Linked DNA regions of Homo sapiens: region 2 is linked to region 1. Evidence: fine-mapped expression QTL. Tissue or cell type: fibroblasts. Region 1 holds a variant in brackets; the other region holds the start of a gene. All regions are shown on one strand. Distances are between the middles of the regions.

What was found. PIP is the estimated chance that this variant, and not a neighbour inherited with it, causes the effect.
Region 2: it holds the start of HERC6, and the variant in region 1 is fine-mapped to the expression of HERC6 in fibroblasts (GTEx, PIP above 0.99).

Annotation. Positions count from the first base shown.
Region 1 is chr4:88,525,575-88,533,682 of GRCh38, forward strand. It overlaps a transcript of HERC3 not described here and the pseudogene LOC100129137. Among named protein-coding and RNA genes, the nearest start is that of PIGY-DT, 5.8 kb to the left of the region's middle. The variant G/T (reference allele first, on the strand shown) is at 4,163.
Region 2 is chr4:88,375,742-88,383,849 of GRCh38, forward strand. HERC6 (HECT and RLD domain containing E3 ubiquitin protein ligase family member 6) reads left to right here and starts at 3,111. Exons shown (of 23, transcript NM_017912.4): 1 at 3,111-3,379; 2 at 7,480-7,639. The coding sequence starts at 3,181. RefSeq lists a silencer at 3,334-3,523 and enhancers at 3,534-3,863, 6,940-7,239.

The DNA of each region.
Region 1 (8,108 bases):
TTGCCTCCACATAGAGGGTTTGAGGCAGTTCAGTTTACTTTATTTAGGGGAAGAATAGAGAGTAACAGCAAAGTATTGAAAACATCCTCAAATTTATAACACCAGAAATCAACAACCAATATTTAAGGAACATATGAATGTATGACTATCACCATGTGTGTATTAAGTTGCAACATATCAAAGCAATATGTCCCTAAATAGCCCTTAGTAATGAAGAAATACAATTCATTTCTGCCTGTAGTATACTAAGCTAAATGTAGATGATAGGATAGGATCATGGGACTGGAACTGGTCTTTTAAAAGTTAGTCCCTTTTCACTATTCACATGACTGACCTTTCGTGTCACATAGGCCTGTGCACAATAACCTGATGGTTTCTGGGCTCAGATACAATATAGCTGTGTGATCTTGGAGAAGCTACTTAAGTTCTCACCCTCAACCTTCTCACTTGTGAAATACAATAATAATAGTATGTAACTTACAGTGTTTGAACAGACTAAATAAAACAATTCAAGTAAAACAGCACAGGGGCTAACACATTTAAAGAATGTTTAGCAATAAAATTATTTATTATGGTGAAACTAGTAAACATTCTGATGGAAAGGGAAAGCACAAGGTACTTCTGGGACACTCTTTTTAACTGAAATGGAATTTTTCTAATTTCCAATATGGATACTATTGAAACACAATTCTTGGATTATCACACACATGAAGTTAGAAATCTCTAGGCAGAAGAGGGGCTGGACTATGTATTTTAACAGAGCCTGTCAATTCCAAATTTGGGGGCATTGAAATTTGTGAACCTGCAATCCAAAGAAATGAGTCAAAATAAATTTTCCACTAGATGGCATCATTTAGTATTTGAACTAACATTTATCTCTGCTTGATCTTTTCTTTCTGTGATTACAAAGACTTACTTTCATTTTGCCAATTGTTTCTTAGTTTGACAACACTTATTTTTTATTTTTATTTTATTTTCTTGAGACAGATTCTCTCTGTGTCATCCAGGCTGGAGTACAGTGGTGCAGTCGTGACTCACTGCAGCCTTGACCTCCCAGACTCAAGCAATCCTGGCATGTCAGCCTCCAGGTAGCTGGGAATACAGGTGCATGCCACCACACCCAGCTAATTTTTGTATTTTTTGTAGAGATGGTGTTTCATGTTGCCCAGGCTGGTCTGGAACTCCTGAGCTCAAGCAGTCCACCCACCTTGGCCTCCCAAAGTGCTAGGATTACAGGCATAAGCCACTGTGCCCAGCCCAACATTTATTTTAAAAACAAAAATCATAAAAGTCCTATTAATAAATTTTAATGATGAGTTTATTAAAATCAAGTTTCCAATAGATAAATGGACAAAATATTTGAAAAGAAAAATTCGCAAAAAAGAAAATACAGTTGGTCAATAAACATATTAAAAAATTATCCTCAATAGTAAAGTAGTAATGCTAGTTTCAAACATCAAAGGAGTTTTGAAATAACTCTAGACATGAATGTTACCAGCCTTGTTTTGGCCATCTGAAGGATAATCACAAATTCTGTCTGAAGGGCTGAGGACTAGTGCCTGCAAAAGGACCAGAATATCCCAGCATGGGCACAAGTAGCTTGAAATTATGGAAGTATGTCCTGTCTTTCTTTCTTTTCTTTCTTTCTTTCTTACTCTCTCTCACTTTCTCTCTTTCTTTCTTTTTTTTTTTTTTGAGACAGGATCTTGCTCTATCTCCCAGGCTGGAGTGCAGTGGCTCCATCATAGCTGACTGCAGCCTTCACCTTCTGAGCTCAAACAATCCTCCCACCTCAGCTTCCTGAGTAGCTGGGACCATAGGCACACACATGCACCACCACACCTGGCTAATTTCTAAAATTTTTTTTGTAAAGTCAGGGTCTCACTATGTTGCCCAGGCTGGTCTTGAACTCCTGGGCTCAAGTGATCCTCCCGCCTCAGCCTCCCAAAGTCCTGGGATTACAGGCGTGAGCTACCACGCACAGCCCAACTTGCTCTTTTGGTTCTGTGGCTGCTGCAGTTATGGGGATGTACCCGCTGATCCACAACAGTTTGGGAGTGCTCTTCCATAAGCTCCCCTCCCTCATGCCGGGCAATGTGCTTGTCATCGTGGTCTCCATTATCACGGTGGTTGCCTTCCTGGGCTGCATAGGTTCTGTCAAGAAAAACAGGTGCCTGCTTATGTCCTTGTTCATTCTGCTGCCGGTTATCCTCCTTGCTGAGGTGATCTTGGCCATCCTGCACTTTGTTTACGAACGGAAGCTGAATGTATAGGTAGCTGAGGGCCTGACGGACAGCATCTACCATTACCACTGGGACAACAGCACCAAGGCGATGTGGGACTCCATCCAGTCATTTCTGCACTGCTGTGGCGTAAATGGCATGAGTGATTGGTCCAGCGGATAGCAAGCATCTTGCCCCTCAGATCCAAAAGTGAAAGGTTGCTATGCAAAAGCGAGACTGTAGTTTCACGCCAATTTCCTGTATATCAGAATCATCACCATCTGTGTATATGTGCAATCCAGGTGGTGAGGATGTCCTTTGCACTGACCCCAAACAGCCAGATTGATAAAACCAGTCAGGCCCTGGGGGTGTGACCTGCAACTGCCCTGTGCTGGGGAGACTCGTTTCATCTTTGGAAATCCAAAACCATTTATAGCACGAAGTTCTAAATGGTCACCTGCTGGACTGCCTGTCCTCCTCCCAACCCTTTGCTTTTTGGGTCGCTGTCTTATACAGCCAGAAAATAAGGTGTTGGCTAGGGACTTTCCATCTCAGGCAGCAAGACAACCTTTCACCTACTGATGGCAGCAGCCACGTCTCTCAAGGTGGTAACAGTAATACTTGGACATTTTTTTAGACATGAAAGGCCAAGAGAAACTGTGGAACTAATGGCTCAAGATCAAAGAGTGGGCCCAGGATATGAAGTTTTTAACCTTCCCATTGTCAAATTAGTCTCTGGCCTCTGTGTCATGCCCAGTCTGCTCTCCAAAGTCAAGCAAGAGACAAGCTGAAGAGGGTCCTAGGTCCAGGCTCATGGGACCATTGTCACAACCCTGTTTCTCTTTGACGAAGAGTGGTGGCTATAGGAATTACAGAGTGCTCTTTCTCCAAAGGGCAAGGTTTCATTTCCATTTCTTTATTAAGGGCCTCATCAATTTATTCTGTCTTTCCACAAAAAATTATCCAGTGATTTATATCCTGACTTCAACCAGTTACTTAGTTGATAATCACATGCACAAGACTTCCGGTGTTATTTCTCTATCAGCTAAGGTTTTGTTAATTTACTATTTTGCTCTTCGATAAATAAAAGTGATCTTAATTTTTTAAAAAATCAAAGAAGTTTCCATTTCTCATCTATCAAAATAGTAAATATTTTAAAAATGTAATTCTTAATGTTTATGAATAAATGAATAAAGTATTAATTTATTAATTTATTGAATGTCCACTATGTGGCAGGCATGCACCATTATTCAGATTTAAAAATAAAAACTCATAACAACACAGAAAATTATAATAAGTGAAAAACAAGCAGGACACAAAAATGTATGCACAATGATTATATTTTTAAACCCAGAACATCGGCATAGGGGCAAAAAACAAATAACAACCAAAATGTTGGTTGAGTGCTGTGGCTTACACCTGTAATCCTGCACGAGGCAGGAGGATTGCTTGAGGCCAGGAGTTCAAGACCAGACTGAGCAACTTAGCAAGACTCCATTTCTACAAAAAATAAAAAAGTTGGCTATGGCAGTGCCTGCAAGTACTAGCTACTCAGGAGGCTGAGGAAGGAGGATCACTTGGGCCTAGGAGTTCGAGGTTACAGTAAGGTATGATGGCACCACTGCACTCTAGCCTAGGAGACAGAGCAAGACCCTGTCTCTAAAAAATAAAAAAACAGGCCAGGCGCAGTGGCTCATACCCGTAATCCCAGCACTTTGGGAGGCCAAGGCCGGTGGATCACGAGGTCAGGAGTTCAAGACCAGCCTGGCCAAGATGGTGAAACCCCGTCTCTACTAAAAATAGAAAAATTAGCCAGGCGTGGTGGCAGGCGCCAGTAATCCCAGTTACTCGGGAGGCTGAGGCAGGAGAATCGCTTGAAACCAGATGGCAGAGGCTGCAGTGAGCTGAGATCACACCACTGCACTCTAGCCTGGGCAATA[G/T]AGAGAGACTATGTCTCAAAAAAAAAAAAAATGTTGGTTCTCTTTAGCTGGTTGAAATATTGCTGAATTGTTCTTTAAATGTTTCTCTGTTTAAAATTTTTTATTTAATAAAGTAGTTTTAAAATATAAACATTACCAGTTCATAATTGATAAAAGAATACTTTATTTCAAAACTATTGATTCGGTTCAGTAAATATTGATCACTTCCTGTGTTCTCAGATTATATTAGGAGGTGGAAAGGAGGGGTATAAAGGCATATAAGATGCTATTCCAGCTGAGTGTGGTGGCTCACGCCTGTAATCCAGCACTTTGGGAGGCTGAGGCAGGCGGATCACCTGAGGAGTTCAAGACCATCCTGGCCTGGCCAACATGGTGAAACCCTGTCTCTGTTAAAAGTACAAAACATTACCTTGGTGTGGTGGCAGTGCCTATAATCCCAGCTACTCAGGAGGCTGAGGCAAGAGAATTGCTTGAACCAGGGACGTGGAGGTTGCAGTGAGCCAAGATCGTGCCACTGCACTCCAGCCTAGGTGACAGAGTGAGATTCCGTCTCCAAAAGAAAAAAAAAAAAGCTATCCCTATTTTCAAGATGTTTATAATCTTAAGTGGAATAAACAGCACAGGATAAAGTTAAATAGAAAATTCAGGTTTACATATAATGCATTCTTTCGTGTATTCATTCAACATTTGTTGAACTTATACTGTATATGAGGCTCACAAAGAAGGCTGTGCCTAAGGCCTAAGGAGGGCTTAGGGGAGTGTCAGTATAGGTCTTATAGCCGTAAGAAATTATTTACTGAGACCTCAGGGGACACCCATTTTATCTCCTTTCCTCATTTTTTAATCCACAAAAACAATTTTAACTTTGCAAGTAGAATATAAAAGTTTGCTAGGCAGAGATGAGTATGATGAGCCATCAATACTATACTACAGCTCAGGTAAGAGTGAATAATGTGGACTTGAGTAAATATTGTAGGGCTGCATATTAATATACATTTTAAATGGCTTCTGTGTATAACATTTCAAAACTGATCACGAAAATGGCCAGGTTTGAGCTTAAGCCTAAAAGTTCAACATAATTAAGATATCAATATATGGAAAGAGGAATAGTATTTTATTTTTATTCTTTTTGAGACAGAGTCTTGCTCTGTTGCCCAGGCTAGAGTGCAGTGGTGCGATTTCAGCTCACTGCAACCTCTACCTCCCAGGTTCAAGTGATTCTCCTGGCCTCAGCTTCCCAAGCAGCTGGGACCACAGGTGTGTACCACCACATCACGCCTGGCTAATTTTTTTGTATTTTTAATGGAGATGGGGTTTTGCCATGTTGGGCAGGCTGGTCTTGAACTCCTGGCCTCAGGCGATCTGCCCTCCTCAGCCTCCCAAAGTGCTGGGATTATAGGCGTGACCCACCATGCCTGGCAGGAATAGTATTTTTAAAAATTTTTTAAATTTTTAAAATTTAAAATTTTTTTAAAATTTTTTAATTTAAATTAAATTGTTGTTGTGCTATGTTGCCCAGGTTAGTTGAACTGGCCTCAAGCTGTCCTCCCCCCTCAGCCTCCCAGAGTTCTGGGATTACAGGCATGAGCCACCGTGCACAGCCAATAGTATTTCTTAATGGGAGTCATCACCACTATTTTGTTCTTTAAAATATCCTATTCATACATATTTTGAAATATAAACTTTAAAAATAAGCGTTCACTAAAACTATAAATATATCACAAGAAAATATCCAGATAAGCAACTCCACATGATATTAATTTGTCTATTTAGAACAAATGAAATCAATAAAAAATTTGCAGTTCTTTCCAACTCTGCTTGAAATCTGTGGCAGCTGTTGCTCTCTCAACCTCCATCTGAAGATGAGCTGTTGCTCTCTCAACCCTCCTATTTGAAGAAGTTGGAAAACGAACAAGTACATTTTCCAGACTCCTTTATAGATAGGGTTCTGGCTATGAAATAGACTCTGCCAGCTAGATACACACACGTGAAATTTGAAAGGGAGGCAGAGATGAGCTTCCTGCAGCAGGGAGAGTTGACACGCAGGTTCTGACAGACACAGGATTTGCATGGGTTAGATGAATGCTGCACTCTCTAGATGCAAGGGGCAGTGTCTTCTTAGCACAGGGCAGCTGTGGCAGCCACAGCAGTGGTTGCAGTAACAGTTTCTTCTGGGTCACAGCTATTAGAGCATTAGCTTAACACCAAAACTCCAGAAGCAGCCCCCTGTTTCTGCTTTTCCAGCCATTTTAATGAATTTATAAACACATAGTTCTGTATATTAAATTCCTATATACTGGAAATTCCTAGAACAATTTCTTTTTCCTACACTGAACCCTGACTGGTCAACTACCCCAGAGTGTAGATGTGATCATAAAATATGTAAATCACTTAGAATAGTGATTAATATATAGTAAAGAATAGTGGCCTGAAACACTATATAGATATCTATATAGATATATTTATAAAACAGGAGATTTATTACAGGAATTGACTTACACAATTACGGAGGCCTGGAAGTCCCATAATCTGCCCTCTGCAAGCTGGAAAACCAGCGGGAGAAAGCTGGTGATATAACTCAGTCCAAGTCCAAAGGCCTGAGAACCACGGGAGCCAACAGTGTAGGTCCAGATCAGAGCTCAAAGGCTCTAGAACCCAGCACCAGTATCTGAGGGCAGGGGAGTATATATGGCTGTCCCAGCTCAAATGAGAAGCAAATGCACCCTTCCTCCACCTTTTTATTCTATTCAGGCTCTCATAGGATTGGATGATGTCCATTCACATAAGTGAGTGCAGATCTTCTTTACTCAACCTATAAATTAAAATCCTAATCTCTTCCAGAAACACCCTCACAGATACAAACACAAATAATGTGTTACCAGCTAACTAGGCATCCCTCAGCTCAGTCAAGATGTCACATAAAACTAACCATCACATTGGCCCATTATAATAGAAAATAAAAGGTCCTGATCAGAATTACTAAAAAGAATGAAGAGTAGAAGTACTAACAAGTACTCAGGAAAACAATCATCCTCTGGACGTAGAGTTGTAATATTTAGGAAAACAATGTGGGGAATTTTCTTTTTGCAAGGGTTCAAGGGAGAGCTTGAGGAAGAGGCAAGATAACTTACCTCTTGTACTAATCCCATATGTATTAGAGTTCTCTAGAGGGACAGAACTAATAGGATAGATGAATATACGAAACGGACTTTATTAAGGAGAATTGACTCACACGGTCACCAGGTGAAGTCCCACAGCAGGCCATCTGCAAGCTGAAGAGCAAGGAAGCCAGTCTGAGTCCCAAAACCTCAAAAGTAGGGAAGCCGACAGCGCAGCCTTCAGCCTGTGGCCGAAGGCCGGAGAATCCCTGGCGATCCACTGATGTATGTCCAAGAGTCCAAAAGCTGAAGAATTTGGGGCCTGATGTTTGAGGGCAGGAAGCATCCAGCATGGGAGAAAGATGAAGGCCAGAAAACTCAGCAGGTCTGCTCATTCCACCTTCTTCTGCCTGCTTTATTCTGCCCACGCTGGCAGGTGATTGGATGGTGCCCACCCACATTGAGGATGAGTCTGCGTCTCCCAGTCCACTGACTGAAATGTTAATCTCCTTTGGCAACACCCTCACAGACACACCCAGGAACAATACTCTGTATCCTTCAATCCAATCAAGTTGACACATTATTAACCATCACACCATGGAAAATTCTGATTTTATAAATAAAATTGAAGGGATAAAAGGAGGCAAAACGATGTCACCTGAGACCTATGTGAGTAATTTGATGCTACTCATACTACTATCCCCTGCCCTTTCTCAAGGTTTTCCTTGTCATGATGCAGACTAGCTTGGAAGGGGACCGGTGAGAAACAGCATGCCAAAAGCCTTTGTAATTTCTCTTTCACATCTGGCTGTTCACCATTTCTTACAATTTGTTTCTTCATAAGTCTT
Region 2 (8,108 bases), 150 kb before region 1:
GACTATAGGTACATTTCAAAACCACTAGCCAATAATAATTTGAATGTTCCTTTTTTTTTTTTTTTTTTTTTTGAGATAGGGTCTGGCTCTGTCGCCCAGGCTGGAGTGCAGTGGCACGATCTGGGCTCACTGCACCTTCCACCTCCCAGGCTCCGGGCTCAAGCAATCCTCCCACCTCAGCCTCCCACGTAGCTGGGACTACAGGTATGTGCCACTGCACCCAGCTATTTTTTGTAAAGATGGGGTTTCACCATGTTGCCCAGGCTGGTCTCCAACTCCTGAGCTCAAGCGATCCTCCCATCTCGGCCTCCTAAAGTGCTAGGATTATAGGCATGAGCCACTGTGCCTAGCCCAAGATAAATTATTTAAGGCGATAGATATCCCAATTTGATAATGTGTCAAATTATCATATGTACCCCCAAAACATGTGCATCTATTATGTATCAATAAAAGATTTTTTAGGCCAAGAGTGGTGGCTCACGCCTGTAATCCCAGCACTTTGGGAGGCTGAGGCAGGCGGATCACTTGAGGTTAGAAGTTCGAGATCAGCCTGGCCAACATGGTGAAACCCTATCTCTACGAAAAATACAAAAATTAGCCAGGTGTGATAGTGCCCGCCTGTAATCTGAGCTGTTCAGGAGGCTGAGGCAGGAGAATCGCTTGAATCGGGGAGGTGGAGGTTGCAGTGAGCTGAGATCGTGCCACTACACTCCAGCCTGGGTGGCAAAGCGAGACTCTGTCTCAAAAAAAAATTTTTTTTTAAAGAAATAACTTAATTTGAGGGCTCAGTATCTTATGGTAATAATACCAAACTCCTACATTTTGTGCTTGAGAAAAGAAATAAACATTAAGAAATTACTATTCAGAAAAAGGTTATATTTGGTATACAGCAAAACAGAACCAGAAATACTAATACTATCCACTGACTCACTACTCATCAATCCAATTGTCCGACATACCCTTATTAGCATCTACCAAGTTCCAGGTACTCTTGAGGTAGAAAAATAAAGAACATTTGTTCTTCTCTTTAAAGAACTTGAAACATGGTCATGAAGAGTGGTGAATTGAAATTACATAAATAGGTTCTGTAATAGTTTCTTTTAAAAAAAAATCAATAATGCTGATGATGGCTAACATTATCAAAGTTACCAAATCTAAAAACCAGTGCTCAGCGGGACATGGTGGCCTATAATCACAGCACTTTGGAAGGCTGAGGTAGGCAGATCATCTGAGGTCAGGAGTTCAAGACCAGCCTGGGCAACATGATGAAACCCCATCTCTTCAAAAAATACAAAAGTTAGCTGGGCGTAGTGGCACGTGCCTGTAGTCCCGCTACTTGGGAGGCTAAGGCGGGAGGATTGCTTGAACCTGGGAGGCGGAGGTTGCTGTGAGTTGAGATCACGCCATTGCACTCCAGCCTGGGCATCAAGAGCGGAAACTCTATCTCAAACAAACAAACAAATAAATAAATAAAAATCAGTGCTCAATCCTTACCTTGCTCCACAAGAAATTGACAGAGTTGATCCTTCCTTTATTCGTTACTTGCTCTGTCTATAACTCCTCCTCCTGGTTTTCCTCCTATGATCAGTCCTCTAGCCTCTGCTATACTGTCACCACATTCACCCCCTGGGTGTTCTCATTCAGCCATCTGGCTTTAAGCATCACCTCTACACTGATGGCTCCCAATTTTCTGACTACACCCAAGCTTCTCTCTACAACTCCAAAACAGTTTATCCTATTGCCTTCTTGATTAACAAGCATCTTACAGTTATCATTACCAATCTGTATTCCAGACACACATAGCTTAAACCTGCACCTTCCTCAGGGTTTCCCAGTCCAGTAGAGTTTACCTTGGAGTAACCCCTAAAGCCAACCCTGGAGTAATCCCTAATCCCTTTTCTTCTTTCCCCCCAATTTCTAATCCATCATCAAATCTGTGGACTCTTACTTTCAAAACATGTCTTGAATCTAATAACTTCTCCTCTCTTCCCTTCTAGGATATCACCTGACCTGAACTCTGAAGTAGTCTCTGCTAACTGGCTTTCTGCTTCCATTTTTGTCCTATTATTTTTCACACAGCAGCCAGATGAATCTTTAAAAACTGAAGTCAGATCATGGCTCTTCTCTATTCAAAACCTTCCAACTGCTTCTTTTCATCCTCTGCCCTCAGGTGTGATCACGACTCATTCCCTCATTTCCCATGTCCCCTCAGCTCTCTGCACAAATATCACTTCATCAGAGAGATCTTCCCTAATATCATCTCAAATACCAGTGCCTTCCGCCTCCACCCTCTGGTTCCTGTTGTATTTTTCGTTGCCCCTTGATATTACACTATGTGTTTATCTGTTTATGTTCTCTTTCCCTCAGGAGAATGTAAACGCATCAAGAGGATCTTGTCTTTCACTAATTGTATTTTCAGGCGGGGCCCAGAGGCTCACGCCTGTAATCCCTGCACTTTGGAAAGCTGAGGGGTGGATCACTTGAGGTCAGGAGTTCGAGACCAGCCTGGCCAACATGGTGAAACCCCATCTTTACTAAAAATACAAAAATTAAGTCGGGCGTCGTGGCGCATGCCTGTAATCCCACCTACTCGGGAGGCCGAGGCAAGAGAATCAGCTTGAACCCGTGAGGTGGAGGTTGCAGTGAGCCGAGATGGTGCCACTGCACTCCAGCCTGAGCAGCAGAGCGACACTCCATCTCAAACAAACAAACAAACAAACAAACAAAAAACAAACATATTTTCAATGCCAAAAAAGGTCTGGAATGAGGTGGGCACTCAGATGCTTTATTAACCACTCTAGGTATTATTCTAACACTTTATGTGCCTATTAAATTATCCCGACATATTAGATTTGCTGAATTGCAGTCCATATTTCGTAGATATGATAGCTGAAGCACGGAATCATTAGGTAACTTGCCCAAAGTGGCATTCACGACTCATAAATGGCTTAGGATGTAAACTCAGTTTTATTCCCTGGGACGCCCTCTCTGCTCTTCAGCACTTGAAGTTCAGGCAGCGAGAGTTGACATGGGGCCAGGGCTGCGCCCCTGGGGCGGGTTGAAGACAGGGTGAGTCTCTTGATATTCAGGAAATCATCGCGCACCCAGTCACCAGCGTTCGGGAGCCTGTCGCAGCGGGACCGACGGAATCCGGAGCAGGCGACAGGGCGCAGAAGCGGGATGTACTTCTGTTGGGGCGCCGACTCCAGGGAGCTGCAGCGCCGGAGGACGGCGGGCAGCCCCGGGGCTGAGCTACTGCAGGCGGCCAGCGGGGAGCGCCACTCTCTGCTGCTGCTGACCAACCACAGGGTCCTCTCGTGCGGAGACAACAGCAGGGGTCAGCTGGGCCGCAGGGGCGCGCAGCGCGGGGAGCTGCCAGGTGAGCGGGGGGCCCCAGGTGCAGGGTGTGAGGACCCCAGTACATGGGCGCGGGGGCTTGGGTACCGGGCGCAGGGAACCGGGTGCGGAGCGCTGGGACCCGGGTGAGGGGCGCGGGGGCCCAGGTGCAGGGAGCGGCTCAGATGCTGGGCGCCGCGGGCCAGGCAGGGAGGGGTGCTGGGAGCCTTGGATTCCTCGGGGCCCGAAGAGCCACAGGAACCAGGAAAATGGTGCCCTGTGCTACCGAAGAGCAACTTCCTCAGTTTCGTTTTCCCAACGCCCCTCGGATTTGTTTCGGTTTCCAATTCAAGTTCAAAGCGAAACTGAGAGCCGAAACTAACCTGGTCAGCGCTGCTCTGGAAAGAGATGTGGTCCCTCCGGCTTGCCTTGCAGATAAATCCTCGCCTGCGCGGTTCTACCTGGAGAAGGCAGCCTGACCTTACAAACGTGGTTTGTGGGTCAGACACCTGTATCTCCCTTAGAAATACACTGGGGCATTAAAAAATATATATATATAAAAATATATATATAAAATATATAAATATATATAATATATAAATATATACAAATATATAATATATAAATATATAATATATAAATATATATAATATATAAATATATAAATATATAACATATAAATATATATAATATATAAATATATATATAACATATAAATATATATAATATATAAATATATATATAACATATAAATATATATAATATATAAATATATATATAGCATATAAATATATATAATATATAAATATATATATAATATATAAATATATATAATATATAAATATATATAATATATAAATATATATATAATATATAAATATATATAATATATAAATATATATAATATATAAATATATATATAATATATAAATATATATAATATATAAATATATATAATATATAAATATATATATAATATATAAATATATATAATATATAAATATATATAATATATAAATATATATATAATATATAAATATATATAATATATAAATATATATAATATATAAATATATATAATATATAAATATATATATAATATATAAATATATATATAATATAAATATATATATAATATATAAATATATAATATATAAATATATATAATATATAAATATATAATATATAAATATATATAATATATAAATATATAATATATAAATATATATATAATATATAAATATATATATAATATATAAATATATATATAATATAAATATATATATAATATATAAATATATATATATAATATATAAATATATATATATAATATATAAATATATATATATACACATAATAGGCCGGACGCGGTGGCTTACGCCTGTGATCCCAGCACTTTGGGAGGCCGAGGCGGGCGGAGCACGAGGTCAGGAAATCGAGACCACCCTGGCCAATATGATGAAACCCCATCTCTACTAAAATACAAAAAATAAACTGGGCGTGGTGGCGGGCGCCTGTAGTCCCAGCTACTTGGGAGGCTGAGGCAGGGGAATCGCTTGAACCCGGGAGGCAGAGGTTGCAGTGAGCCGAAATCGCGACACTGCACTCCAGCCTGGCAACAGAGCAAGACTCTGTCTCAAAAAACATAATAATAATAAATATATATATTATATATGTGAGATAATACAATAATCGTTATGGATTATTGTAGAAATACGAGAAAGCAATCACCGTAGCTCCAACACCCAAAGATAACTCCTAACATTTTGATGCATTTTCTCCTTGTCTACTTTTTTCTATGTACATATTTAATCTTTATAAAAATCATGTCATTATAGATTTGTATATGCAGTATTTATGCAACTCTGTACATTGTGTTTTCATCAAGCATAATCTTATGAACATATTACCCTTTCATTTTGTATGTTTTGAAAATATGTTTTAAATTGCTGCATAACATTCTAAACTCTGAGAGTACCATAATTATTCTCTTTTTGTGGAAATTAGATTGTTTCCCACTAGGGGCTTTTATAAATAATACTGATTGATATTCTCGTAAGCAAATATTTGACTACATTTTTGATGACCTGCTGAGAATAGTTTCAAAAGGTGTGTGGAGGAGGAAAATTTTTCCTCTACCCTCTTAGGTTCAGCGGCTGGGTCCTGCAAACTTAACTGACAAAAGACAGATTGACAGGAGAAAAAGCATACAATTTTATTAATCTTTTACATATAGGGGAATTTACATGCGTGGGAATTTACAGAATAGAAGTGAAACTCAAGTGCTTCGACTTAGGAGCTTGTGTACCATGTTTAACAAAGAAAAGGGGGTTTGGACTTTAAAGGATGATGAACTCAGGGAAAGTGACTAGAAAATATATGGGAAAATCTAATGGAAGATAAGGGTTATTTTAATTGACTTGTTTATGCAGGCTCACCTCAGTGCCAAGTCTTCATCTTAGGTGACCCTTCTCTTCTTTTTTTTTTTTTTTTTTTTTTGAGATGGGGTTTTGCCCTGTCACCAGGCTGTAGTGCAATGGCACTATCTCGGCTCACTGCAACCTCCGCCTCCCCAGTTCAAACGGTTCTTCTGCCTCAGCCTCCCAAGTAGCAGGGATTACAGGCACTCACCACCATGCCCAGCTAATTTTTATATTTTTAGTAGAGACGGGGTTTCACTATGTTGGTCAGGCTGGTCTCAAACTCCTGACCTCGTGATCCACCCGCCTCGGCCTCCCAAAGTGCTGGGATTACAGTTATGAGCCACTGCGCCCGGCTGACCCTTTTCTTGGTGCCAGAGATGGGAGCTTCTCACAAAAGGATATTTATGACCTACTTTTAGGTAGATAAGAAGAGAGCAGAGACCTCTTCCTGCATCTGTTGATTCTCAATTGCCTTCAGCTCAAATTCTTAAAGTAGCATGTTTTCAGGTCTTATCACCCTCATTTGGAAATGAAGGGCAACATGATACTTAACCCCAAATTGTTCTCTAGAAAAATGGTACCAATTTCTATCTTTGTGAGTGCATGAATCTTTGGGAAATTTTAACCTTGCATAAATTGACAGTAAATAGTTGAAAAAGATAAGATTACAAAGATAAAAGGAAAAACAAAATCTTAAATGTTGCAAAAACTTTACTGGTATGATGTTCTCAACTCCAAACCTCTAATAATTCAGAGACAGACACCTTGGGAAAGCAGTTTAGGTTGGCTTGTAGGGAAATGTGATCCGGTTTTCATTTGTGGGCATATTTAGGGCCTCCATAGGGGCATATTTTTCACTTTTCATTGTAAGAGGATCCAGCATCTGCCTCTCACACTCATGAGGTAGGCTCCCTTCCAATTTCCTTCTGAGCAAGGGATTCACTGCTTTCAGTGTTTAGGGTGGGAAGACAGAATAGCAAAATGGAGGAGATCCCAACTTTTTTCTGGGTCTCTTTATTTTGCTAGGTTTTGCTAGAGAAACATTTGGTCATGTGTCATAGTCCCTAGAAGTTACCCCCTCCGTGATGCCTACTCCTTTAAATAACAGCCATTAAAAGATAGACTTGGGTAATTGAATGTTTTTAAGAGTCAATTTGAACATTCAGCAGTTCATGAATTGAGCAGCACCAGACCTCAAGCAGTTGGGCTCCACTAAGGGAGGTGCAAGGAGATGCCAGGGGGAACCTTTGATAACGTGTTCCAGGAAGCAAGACAAAGAAAATACTTGATTGGTTAAAGTGGAAAGTCCCTTGTTTGAAGTAGTCAGCAGTTTCTGGTTGGTAAAGTCTCTAGTTAGATGTTAGTTGGTGGTTTCTGATTGGTTAACCTTAAGTTTCATTTTCCTAGGCTATGATCAATCACTCTGAGTTGGGTTTTGGTTTGCTTAGGTAGGAACCCAAGGTGCTGGAGCCATCTCAACCTGATAGTCTCCCTGTTGATTATTTTAACAGAGCTGTATCCTATAAAGACAGGGTAACATACATTGAATTTACTTCCTTCAGACATTTAGAATGGACTTAAGGTCTTGATTCAAAAGACCATTGGAGGAGACAAGAAATCTGGATGATCCTTCTTTTTGAAGAAAAGTGCTGTCTTAAACTTGTGTTAAATTAATAATCTGCAGTGGTGGTTGGGGGGTGTTTTGTTTTGTTTCCCAAAGAACCAATTCAGGCATTGGAAACCCTAATTGTTGATCTCGTGAGCTGCGGGAAGGAGCACTCCCTGGCTGTGTGCCACAAAGGAAGGGTCTTCGCATGGGGAGCTGGTTCTGAAGGGCAGCTGGGGATTGGAGAATTCAAGGAAATAAGTTTCACACCTAAGTAAGTGTTTCAACCCACTCCTTCATTTATTCAATATATATAGTACCATGTGCCAGGCACTGTGCAAGATGCCAGGATACAAAGACGACTATGACAGGCCAGCTGCAGTGGTTCATGTCTGTAATCCCAACACTTTGGAAGGCTAAGGTGGGCAGATCACTTGAGGTCAGGAATTTGAGACCAGCCTGGTCAACATGGCGAAAGCCCCTCTCTACAAAAAAGACACAAGAAAATTAGCCGGGCATGGTGTCAGGCACCCGCAATCCCAACTACTCAGGAGGCTGAAGCGGGAGAATCGCTTGAACCTGGGAGGCAGAGGTTGCAGTGGTGCTGGGACAGCGCCACTGCACTCCAGCCTGGGCAACAGAGGGAGACTCAGTCTCAAAAAAAAAAAAAAAAAAAAAAAAAAAAAAGACTATGACAAACACAGTTCCTAACCTGAAGGACTACAGTGTAGTGAGGGAAGAAG